Regions from separate parts of the Homo sapiens genome. Here region 1 is linked to region 2. The links come from fine-mapping of genetic effects on gene expression. A gene starts in region 2. The other region holds a variant in brackets. All regions are shown on one strand. Distances are from middle to middle. Region 1 overlaps LOC440084 (a long non-coding RNA gene). Region 2 holds the start of LINC01252 (long intergenic non-protein coding RNA 1252).

What was found. PIP is the estimated chance that this variant, and not a neighbour inherited with it, causes the effect.
Region 1: its variant is the best candidate, but not a certain one, in a credible set for the expression of LINC01252 in pancreas (GTEx, PIP 0.51).

The regions. Positions count from the first base shown.
Region 1 is chr12:11,426,335-11,431,717 of GRCh38, forward strand. LOC440084 (a long non-coding RNA gene) reads right to left here. Exons shown (of 5, transcript NR_148969.1): 4 at 5,148-5,228; 5 at 3,876-4,130. Among named protein-coding and RNA genes, the nearest start is that of PRB2, 33 kb to the left of the region's middle. The variant G/A (reference allele first, on the strand shown) is at 2,340.
Region 2 is chr12:11,545,695-11,551,077 of GRCh38, forward strand. It overlaps LINC01252 (long intergenic non-protein coding RNA 1252), which reads left to right and starts at 2,336. Exons shown (of 8, transcript NR_033890.1): 1 at 2,336-2,666; 2 at 3,896-4,027. The region is part of intron 2 of LOC124902877 (a long non-coding RNA gene); the gene reads right to left. It also overlaps the pseudogene RNU7-60P.

The DNA of each region.
Region 1 (5,383 bases), 120 kb before region 2:
TCTGAGAAAGTGCTGATCCTTTCGAAGAATCCTCCTGTCTCCTAACCTGCAAACATCATCCTCACTGCCAGGACCTTGAAGCTGGCCAGGATATGAGGTTGGATATCCTCCATTTATTTAACGGGCTTTCACTTGATTGGCTTGTTTTCAGAGTAGAATTTCACTCATGCCCTCTTTAGTAACGCCAAGTTGTCCCCAAGTCCATTGCCTCTCTGGTTCAGTTTTTCTAAATAAACCTACTCCCTCTTGCTGGAACAAAGGGGGATGTGAACCCCAACAGTTTCCTGCCACCTGTCTCACCATCACCTTCCCTCCTACAACATAATCCTCAGAGGTCCTGCTGTCCGCAGCCCTGCAGTCTTACAAGGGTGCTATGAGACCAATTAACATACATTTATTTGGTGCCACTTTCCAATAACAAGAACTTCACAGGTGCTTGAATACAACCCTCTTCCTTTCCACTATGCCAGGAACTATGGCTCTGCCTGTACTTAGTCTTCATATATTGTTGCTTATATTTGCCCTATAAGATTTATCAAAGATGAAATTTGCTTTCTTGTTTCCTGATATTATTGTGTGGGGATGGTCTTTGAGAAGAAAGAGTTAAGAAATGCCTTTACTACTGAAACTATGTCACCCTCAGTTATAATTTAGGAAAGCAATTTGCCAATATGCTAAGGAATCTAACAAAAAGTCTGACAGAAGCTTATAAAACAAGTCTTCTGTTTCCATCATTCCACTTAAACAGCTGACATCACGGTACCAGTGACCTCCAGCTTGCTAAAATCAATGGACTTTTTCAGTCTTCATCTTAACTTTCTCAGCAGTGATGGGCATCGTTTGTAATCTGTCTTACTTAAAATATTCTCTTCCTTTGATTCCATGATACTTATATGCATTTGTTTTACGTTGAACTCTCTGGTTGCTCCACTCATTACTTCTTTCATTTATCAAATATATATTGAGTGCCTTCTGTATGCCAGGAATTTTGCTAGGAGTTTAGAATGCAATGATGAATACAAAATCATGGTCCCCACCATTCAGGAGCTGACACCTTGTGTGTCCTTTGCAGATGCATCTGTTTCCATCTAGCTGTGAAATTATGAAATTCCTCTATTTTTTGTCTCTTGCCTCTTGTCACTATATATAATATCATCTCCCTAGAAAAAGTCATCCTTGCCAACAGCTTTAATTATTATCTATGTACCAAAGGCACAAAGTTAAATCTCTTGCCAAGACTCCTACTCTGAGCTTCACGCCTTTATCTATTTGACATCCCCATTTGAATATTTTAAAGTTGCCACTCAGTATTTCCAAAACAAAACTAGATCTGGTAATCCCAACTCTAGTGAACATTGTCCAACCATTCATGCAACATAAAATCTATAGCTTTGACTGTGTCTCATTCCACATAAAAAGTCTACCACCAGTTTCTCTCTCCTGTTCTAATTTTCTAAATATGTCTCATCTCCATCCACTTGTCTCTATCTCTACTGTCCGATATGGTAGCTGCAAGTCACATGTAGCTGCTTACATTTAATTAATTAAAATTAAAAATGTTAAAAATATAAAATATAAATAAAATATAAAATTTTACATTTAAAAGCAGCCATATCTGTGGAATAGTAGATATACAACACATGTATCATCACAGAAATTTATATTAGATAGCACTGCCTTAGACTTTAAGCTAAAATGATGGTTATAAGATACATAACTTATATAAAAGATGTCATATATATATGTAATGTGAAACCTACAGTATCAGTAAAAAAATAAATAACTGTACAAACGCACTCAAAAATACTACATATAAGCCAAAATGGAATTCAAAACAAAATATTCAAGTAACACACAGGAAGGTAGCACATAGAAAACAGAGAAAAAACACAAGATAAGCACAAAACCTAGAGTAAAATGACAGACTTATTACTCAATATATTAATAATTATGTTAAATGTAAGTGATGTAAACTAAATGCTTGAAAATTAAGAGGTTTTGGGATTACAGAAACAGACTAGCCTGTACCATTATCAAAATTTACTCAATAATTTATATTGGTATATAAACTATACAAATTTTATATTAAATATTATTAATATTTTATACAAATACTGTGTAAAACATTTGCATATCATAAAAACCCATGCAAAGCTCTCAGCTCTGTCCCTGCCTGGCACAGAGTAGCCTTCAATGAGAGCTACTATTGTGAGGACAGCCACTGGGTGGGACTCCTTGTCACTTGCTTGCTCCAGGTGTCAACTTCCCACACCAGTGCCTCAGAGTTTTGCCCCTCCTTATACCTGCACTATTCCTAAGTGGCCTCATCTAAGCCCATG[G/A]TTTCAACTATCACTTATACCAGGGTCAGCTACTTGCATGGCACAAGTGCCACAACTCTCCTGGTTAGGCACCCAAATCATTATTCCCTGGGCAGCTGCTTTTAATTGATCTGTTAGAACTTGAAATAAAACATCTTTTTATCCTGAGTAGATACCAATGAGTGCCTATGATGAGTCCACTAGCCTTCTTCCCTGGGTACATGTGTAAGTTGTCCTAAGGGTCCATTACAAAACTCCATGCTGAAATCTTCTGAAAATTAAAAATAAAATGGGAAGAGGAAAAGAAAAACTAGTGACTAGTGGGAGAGAGATCGTATTTTAGTTTTAAAAGAGATCGGGGAGGGCTTGGAACTACTTTCTATTTAGAAGCCTGAGACAAGGGGCTTGATGGAACCAAGATAAAGAATCCCAAAATCTGATGTGCTCTGGTGCGAGTTCATCATAAGAGTGAAGGACTTATTGCATATTATATAAAAACCACCAGTGAACATAGAATATTTCTACCTGAGACAAGCTAATAAATTAATAACTCTGAAAGTTAATGATTGCAAACATCGGTGTATTTATTTGAGGATATATATTAAAGAACAAAAAAAAACTTTCAAATCGAATTGGTATAACTGCCTCATTTTCTAAGAGGAAGGTGGAGTTCATAAGTGACCACAATGAGAGACTACAATTAGAAAGCATTCCTCCCCACTCCCGAGTCCACATCCTACTCTAAAAATTCATCACTCCCAATTTATAAATGCAGGCAAATTCAAACAAAATTTCTGCCATTTTAGTTTTTCATTTACATGTTCGCATATACGTACTGCAAAGTATGAATATGTGCGATACCAACTCATACCCTTTTGCAAAAATCTAGTGTATAAACCTAAAAAAAAAAAAGCTGTGTCTACCCACTACTTGAACCAAACCAGTTCTAGAGGATTAAGATGTCTACCTTGTGTGTGCTATGAAGAATAATGGCCTCTCAAAGACACACAACTAATTCCCAGAACCACTGAATATGTTGAATTATATGGGAAGAGGAATTACATTTGCCAATCAACTGACTTTAACATAGAGAAATTATCCTGGATTATCCAGATGGACCCAATGTAATTAATTAAAAGGTCCTTAAATGTGGAAGATGGAGGCAGACGAGTCAGTACCAGACAATGTGATGTGACGGGAGGCTCATCTGGCCATTGCTGGAAAGAGGTCAAGGAATATGAATGAAAAAATGGAATTCTTCTCTAAAGCTTCTAGAATGCAGCTCAGCATTGATACAAGGATCTAATCCTGTGAGACTCATTTCAGACATGTGAACCACAAAACTAAGTTAATAAATTCGTGCTCATTTAAGCCACTAAGTTTGTGGTAATCTATTATCACAGCAATAGAAAAACTAACTTACTTCCCACAAACTCATTTCATGTTTTCCTGTGGCCCCTGTAAAGTATTGATGCCTGTTTATAAAGTATCAGAGAGAAATAAATTTATCATAGGTCTTAATACAATTAAGCAATTCTTCTCTCATAAAATAAGAACCACTCTCAAAATTCAATTATTTATTGAGCCCGTACTCGATGAGACACAGCTAAGAAGTGCCCCTTCCCCATCCCTGAACAATTCCCCCTACCCAGCCAGGATCAATGCCTCAGCTGGGCACATCCTATGTTTTTCTAGTCTTCTACAATAGATCTCCTATAGTGTAGTGGTAGGCATGCTCAAAAGCATAGAATCTTCTTAGAAAGTAGTGGATAGCAGTGATCATCACAGCTAATGGAGAATTTGCTTCATTTTCTAAATTTGAAAACAAAAACAAACAAAAAACGGGAGTTATCAAGAGAAACAAGAGAACCAGGGCTCAAAAGATCAGCCCCATCTTTTCACCCTTTCCCTGGGCATGAAACTTAATTTCTTTAGGGTGTAATTTTTTATCCTCCCTCCCTTGTCTTCTCCCTAATGTGAGATATTTACACACTGTCCAGGCATCCATTTTACTCCATGTTCCCTTCAAAACTCTTTTGAAGGAAAGAGTCCTTGTTAATCTTATCCCTATTTAGTTACTGAAAATCCAAATAACTGGGCTCTCTTTCCTCCAGGGAGGAAAGAGATTGTCTTTAACCTCCATGTTACATTTTGTAGTTGATCTCAGCATCTGGGAAGTTTTAAGTTTGGAATTTTTACCAGTGAATTTAAACTAGCATTGAAAATGGTATCAAATCATCAGTAAAGTATTAAAGGTAAAAGAGGAGAATCTTACAAAACTTCACTGAGGTGAACTCCAAGAGTCTTCTCTGAAGGTGCTGGGCTGGTCTTCAATTAAGTAAAGAAATGTTTCTTATTCATGGTCAGTAAGACTCATTCACCACATGTCTACCATTCTGTTATGAGCCTCCAATAGTGTTAGTAAATGTAGGATTCCACTGAGTCTGTGGCACCAAAACCCTCTTTCTCCTAATCTTCAAGGTACTCCACCAGGACTCAAATCCTACTATGGAAATGGAATGCAAATGCATTCCATGAGAAGGACTGGGTTAAAGGCATGGCCTTCACTCACACTTAGAAGTTCCTAAGTGTAGCAGGTGAACTAGACCTATCCTCATGTGCTAGCAAACATGACGCCCAGGTGAGAAAGGCATATAATGGGGGCAGAGTACCAGAGTCCACTTCTTGAGTCTGTCCTCGAATCCTTCTCAAGAAAAATCTATGGTAGGAATCCAGTCTGCTGGAGGAAAGCAGGCCTTCCCTCAGGAATGCAAAAGATGGGAGCCCATCCCCTGCCCAGGCCTCCTGCGAAGCCAGACCCTCACTCACGGAAAGCCTGGGTGTTCTCCAGGTACACATCTGTGGGTGACTCCAGGTCCATGGTGGATTCTGGTAGGTCAGTGGTTGATTCTACAGGAGCCAAAAAGAAAAGAACAGCGCAAGTACTTTCCAGTGAGAATTTTCACTCTTAGGTAGATCTTTTTCTGGGGAAACATGGAACATAATGTGGCAGACCACATCAAACGTGGTCTCACCACAAGCCTCTCTTCTGCCACCCGCTGGAA
Region 2 (5,383 bases):
AGCCTTCATTAGGAAAGCCTTCATTAGGCCTGCCTTCTTCTCTTCATTCATGAGAGAGTGGCATTAACAGTGCACAAACTAATGCTTCTTCAAATTTTTCTGGGGTCTGCTGCTGCTACTGCTAAAATCCGCTTGCCTTCGGACACAGTTTCTCAAATGGCTTAAAAGCTTCTCTGCTTTTGATCCCTGCAGCATCACTTTCTACTCCCTCAATCAGAAACCAGAAGCTACCCACCCCCATTTCCTGTGTTCATGATAGTAGAAAGCAACAGAGAACAGTTGGCCCCTGAGCTGCCAGGTTGTGGGCTGGGTAGGGAGGATCCATTGCAGGAGCATTGGAAAGCCTTGAGCACTCTGCCCTGCCTGTCCACACAGCAGCACCTTCACAGCCTTCTAGTAGTTCTGATCAGATTTCTGCCTCTTAAAGCGGCCCCACAGACTAAAAGCCATCATCTGGAATTTGGAGTAAAAGGGCCCACAGGAAATGAAGCACTCTAAGAAAATTCAGCTGGGCAGGTATTTTAAGGTCACTGACTGACTCCAAAGTGAAGGTAGAACCCATATTGACCGCAATTCATCACACTTCTGTAACTTCAGAACTCACTGCTGACTGGTGGAGAAGGTTGCAATTGCATTCAGTCCGAATCTCTGAACATATTATTTAGAAATATTAGCTTATCCAGCTGCCTACGGAGCTTCCCATCTGGGCTTTCAGTTGCTACATTCTCTAAAGCCGTATCTGACCCACACCTTACTAACACTATGTGCTTCTACAGCATTCACCCAGTGTTACAGCTCTTTTAGAATCTGTCTAGCAGGTTTTCCAGTCTTCACTGGAAAGCCCTTGCCCCCAAATATAAAAAAATAATAAGGCATTCACCCCTGAACTTTAGCAGGGCTTCCAATCGCCTTTAAGCACTCATTTAAAAGAAAAGTCTTTTATTCCCTTATAATAGTATTAAATCATTAGCAAATGATTCTCAAAACTATTTTTTGAGTGCTCTCTTCTGTGTGAGAATGTAGGAAATGATGACCAAGTATACGAAGTTGGACATGCCTAGTCCCAGGTGGCCTTTTCCTATTGGCACAGCTGCTGGCATTCACCCGTGCAAGCTTCTAGCTTGCTTGTCTATGTCTGCAGCTTGATTTTACAGGCTGCTCATTGTAAGAAAAGAAAACGATTTGAGGGCTGCTTTTCATTAAAAGGAAAACCTTACTGAGGACTTCCTTACCCTCACTATCTGCCTAAATAATTTCTTCTTAACTCCTATATCACTTATAAGAGGAGAAAGCAGACACACAGGGGGAACTCAGTGTGACAGCACAGGCGGAGCCTGGAGGGATGCCCAGGAATGCCAAAGAGACGCACAGACTGGTTTCTCTCTCACAGCCCCCAGAAAAACCTAACCCTGCCAGTGAGAGGTGACAGCGTGCTGGCAGTCCTCACAGCCCTGCTCGCTCTCGGCGCCTCCTCTGCCTGGGCTCCCACTTTGGCGGCACTTGAGGAGCCCTTTAGCCCACCGCTGCACTGTGGGAGCCCCTTGCTGGGCTGGCCAAGGCCGGAGCCGGCTCCCTCAGCTTGCAGGGAGGTGTGGAGGGAGAGGCGCGGGCGGGAACAGGGGCTGCGCGCGGTGCTTCCGGGCCAGCGCGAGTTCCGGGTGGGCGTGGGCTCGGCGGACCCAGCACTCGGAGCGGCAGGCCGGCCCCACCAGCCCGAGCAGTGAAGGGCTTATCACCTGGGCCAGCAGCTGCTGTGCTCAATTTCTCGCCAGGCTTTAGCTGCCTTCCCGCGGGGCAGGGCTCGGGACCTGCAGCCCGCCATGCCTGAGCCTCCCCCACCTCCGTGGGCTCCTGTGCAGCCGGAGTCTCCCCGACAAGCGCCACCCCCTGCTCCGCGGAGCCCAGTCCCATCGACCACCCAAGGGCTGAGGAGTGCAGGCACACGGCACCGCACTGGCAGGCAGCTCCACCTGCAGCCCCGGTGGGGGATCCACTGGGTGAAGCCAGCTGGGCTCCTGAGTCTGGTGGGGACGTGGAGAACCTTTATGTGTAGCTCAGGGATTGTAAATACACCAATGGGCACTCTGTATCTAGCTCAAGGTTTGTAAACACACCAATCAGCACCCTGTGTCTAGCTCAGGGTTTGTGAATGCACCAATGGACACTCTGTATCTTGCTACTCTGGTGGGGACTTGGAGAACCTTTGTGTGGACACTCGGTATCTAGCTAGTTTGGTGGGGACGTGGAGAACCTTTGTGTCTAGCTCAGGGATTGTAAACGCACCAATCAGCGCCCTGTCAAAACAGACCATTGGCTCTACCAATCAGCAGGATGTGGGTTGGGCCAGATAAGAGAATATAAGCAGGCTGCCCGAGCCAGCAGTGGCAACGCGCTCGGGTCCCCTTCCACACTGTGGAGGCTTTGTCCTTTCGCTCTTTGCAATAACTCTTGCTACTGCTCACTCTTTGGGTTCACACTGCCTTTATGAGCTGTAACACTCACCGCGAAGGTCTGCAGCTTCACTCCTGAAGCCAGCGAGACCACGAACCCACCAGAAGGAAGAAACTCCAAACACATCTGAACATCAGAAGGAACAAACTCCGGACACGCCGCCTTTAAGAACTGTAACACTCACGCGAGGGTCCGCGGCTTCATTCTTGAAGTCGGTGAGACCAAGAACCCACCGATTCCGGACACACCAGCACCCGGATCTCAGACCTCTGGCCTCCGGAACTGTGAGAGAGTAACTTTCTGCTGTTTTAAGATACCCAGCTTGTGGTCATTTATTACAGCAGCCCTAGCAAACGAACCCAGTGTGGTTTGCAACTTCAGTTATAGCATCTACCATCAGCCCAATTCAAAAGACCATTTATTTAATCAGCAACGTTTCCCCCGTCACTCCTTATGGGGCAGTATCCACTGTAGGCTACTGATTCTACTTAGTGCTTTAAGTCAGCGTTGCCAGAATCATACTGAAACACATACCTGGGGCTTCTAGGGCATCTCCTAGTCAGCCTTGTCAAAATCAACAGTTTTGAAAATACGCTCTATGGCAGTCCTGAATTCCACAGGGGTGGAATTCAGAGCCGCTCTCCTCTTGTTTGTCGTATTTTATAAAATGGATATTTAATTCTGTTTCACTATTTGCTTTCATTACTAAAATTTCCCAAAATACATGAAAATAGAGGGTACTCGAAAAACCCAACTTTAAATAAAATAACCGTGAGTATTCTGCCATACTTGTTTCTGTGTTAATATAAGAATTTATTTGAAGAGTTCTGCTATAATGTTTTTAAATACTGGTTTCAATAACTCTCTTCCAATACAGATTACACTTTGTTAGCTCCAATAATTGCTGCATGGTGAATTTAGTCTATTGAAAAGGAAGTGTCAGGTCTGAGTGCCAATTATTGTACTTGACCCAAGGTAACTCTCTTTCAAGGTACTGCGTTGGGTTCCCACTGAATTATTTTACCACATTCGAAATCCTTCATCAGAAATTCAATGTCTTTTATTATGATACATGAAATGATCTAATAAATCTCACTGCACACTGTTACTTTGATTTCTCCAATGAACCACACCTCTCAGAATGCACGCCCTTGTATAGTCCCCTCTCATGGTGACAGCAGGCTTAGCCTTGTGACTAGCTTTGACAATGGGGATATTAGCAAGCATGATGCAAGTGGATTCTGATAAGCTTGATGCTGTATTTATTTGCTTTGGCTGCCATAATAAATGATCACAAACTGGGTATCTTAAAACAGCTCCTTTTTCAGATGTTTCTCCACATTCTTCCAAGGCAAAAAGAAAAGAAAAAGAAATACACACAGACACATACATATATGTTTCAGTTCAATAAGTTTTTGTTGTGTTTTGTTTTGTTTTGTTTCAGACAGAGTCTTGCTCTGTCGCCCAGGCTGGAGTGATGAGGCGCGATCATCACTCCACCTGGGCTCACTGCACCTCCGCCTCCCGGGTTCAAGCGATTCTCCTGCTTCAGCCTCCTGAGCAGCTGGGATTACAGGTGAGTGCCACCATGCCCAGCTAATTTTTGTATTTTTCTTAGTAGAGACAGGGTTTCACCATTGTTCGTCAGGCTGGTCTCGAACTCCTGACCTCATGATCCACCCACCTCGGCCTCCCAAAGTGCTGGGATTACAGGCGTGAGCCACCGCGCCCAGCCTCAATAAGTATTTATTAAGTGTATAACACATGGCAGAAACTGTGCTAGATACTGAAACTATAATGGCAAAAATCAATTCCTGTCCTCTGAATTGGTTACCTAGTAGAGAAGACAGACATGTAAACAAATATAGTGGAGAGTGACATAGGCAATAATAAAACTATGTATAAGAAATCCAATTAGTATGGATAATTAACAACTAATGGTTGGAAAGAAGTGTCAAAAAAAGCTTCTTAGATACAGTGACACCTGAGCAGGATTTCTAAGGGTGCACTGGGGAAAGAGGTTCATAAATCAAGGGAGCATCATACTGAAATGGTAGTGATGGAACATGGTATATGCAGACAACTACAAAAATTCACTTCTACTGATAGTCCAAGGGAGGAAGGCATGAATATGAGAATGGAGGTATGGACAGAGGCCAGGTCAGGGTAAGTTAGAGAGCTTACTTAACCTTGTAGAAAATGACGAGCCATTGGAGACTTTAAAGAGAAATAACATAGTCATATTCTTGTTGTGAAAGATCATCTGGGCTGCTATGTGCAGGACAGATTACCAGGAACAAAACCAGAAGCACCTGTTCAAGCCTGAATTCTAGTCACAGAAGTAAAGCTGAAGAGGAGAAAATGGATGTGAGCAATATCCAAAAGGGAAAATAATAATATACACATAAGGAATAGGGAAGAGAAGAGCAAAAATAATTTCCTATTTCGCCTTCCCTTCTTTTGGAGTTGGAACACTCAAATGGTGTGATGGGTGGCACTGGGGCTAAGGGGACAAGGCTGGCCCAGCTGGGAGATTGCTTACATGCAGGAGGATCAAGTGAATGAGTCAACGTATCAAGGAGACTGGGAATGCAATTTCTCACTGTTGAAGAAAGGAGTTACAAATATGCAAAGGGGAAAATGTGATACTGGATTGGAATTGAAGGCATTAGTCCGAAGTTATGGATTTTAAAGATAGGAATGTGACAGATGATAGATAGGTAGGGATAGACAGGTAAATTGAGAAGTAGAAATGTATGAATGTGTTATATTTCCTAGTCCAGGAGCAATGACACCCCAGTTGCAATGAGCATCCTAGCATTTAGATCTCAGTTTCTAAATACCTTTTTCCACTAAAAGGAACCAGGGCTGGGGCAGGGAAAGAACAAGATGACCCTGGAACTCTATTGTACTGAAAGTAAGGAAGCCCTCA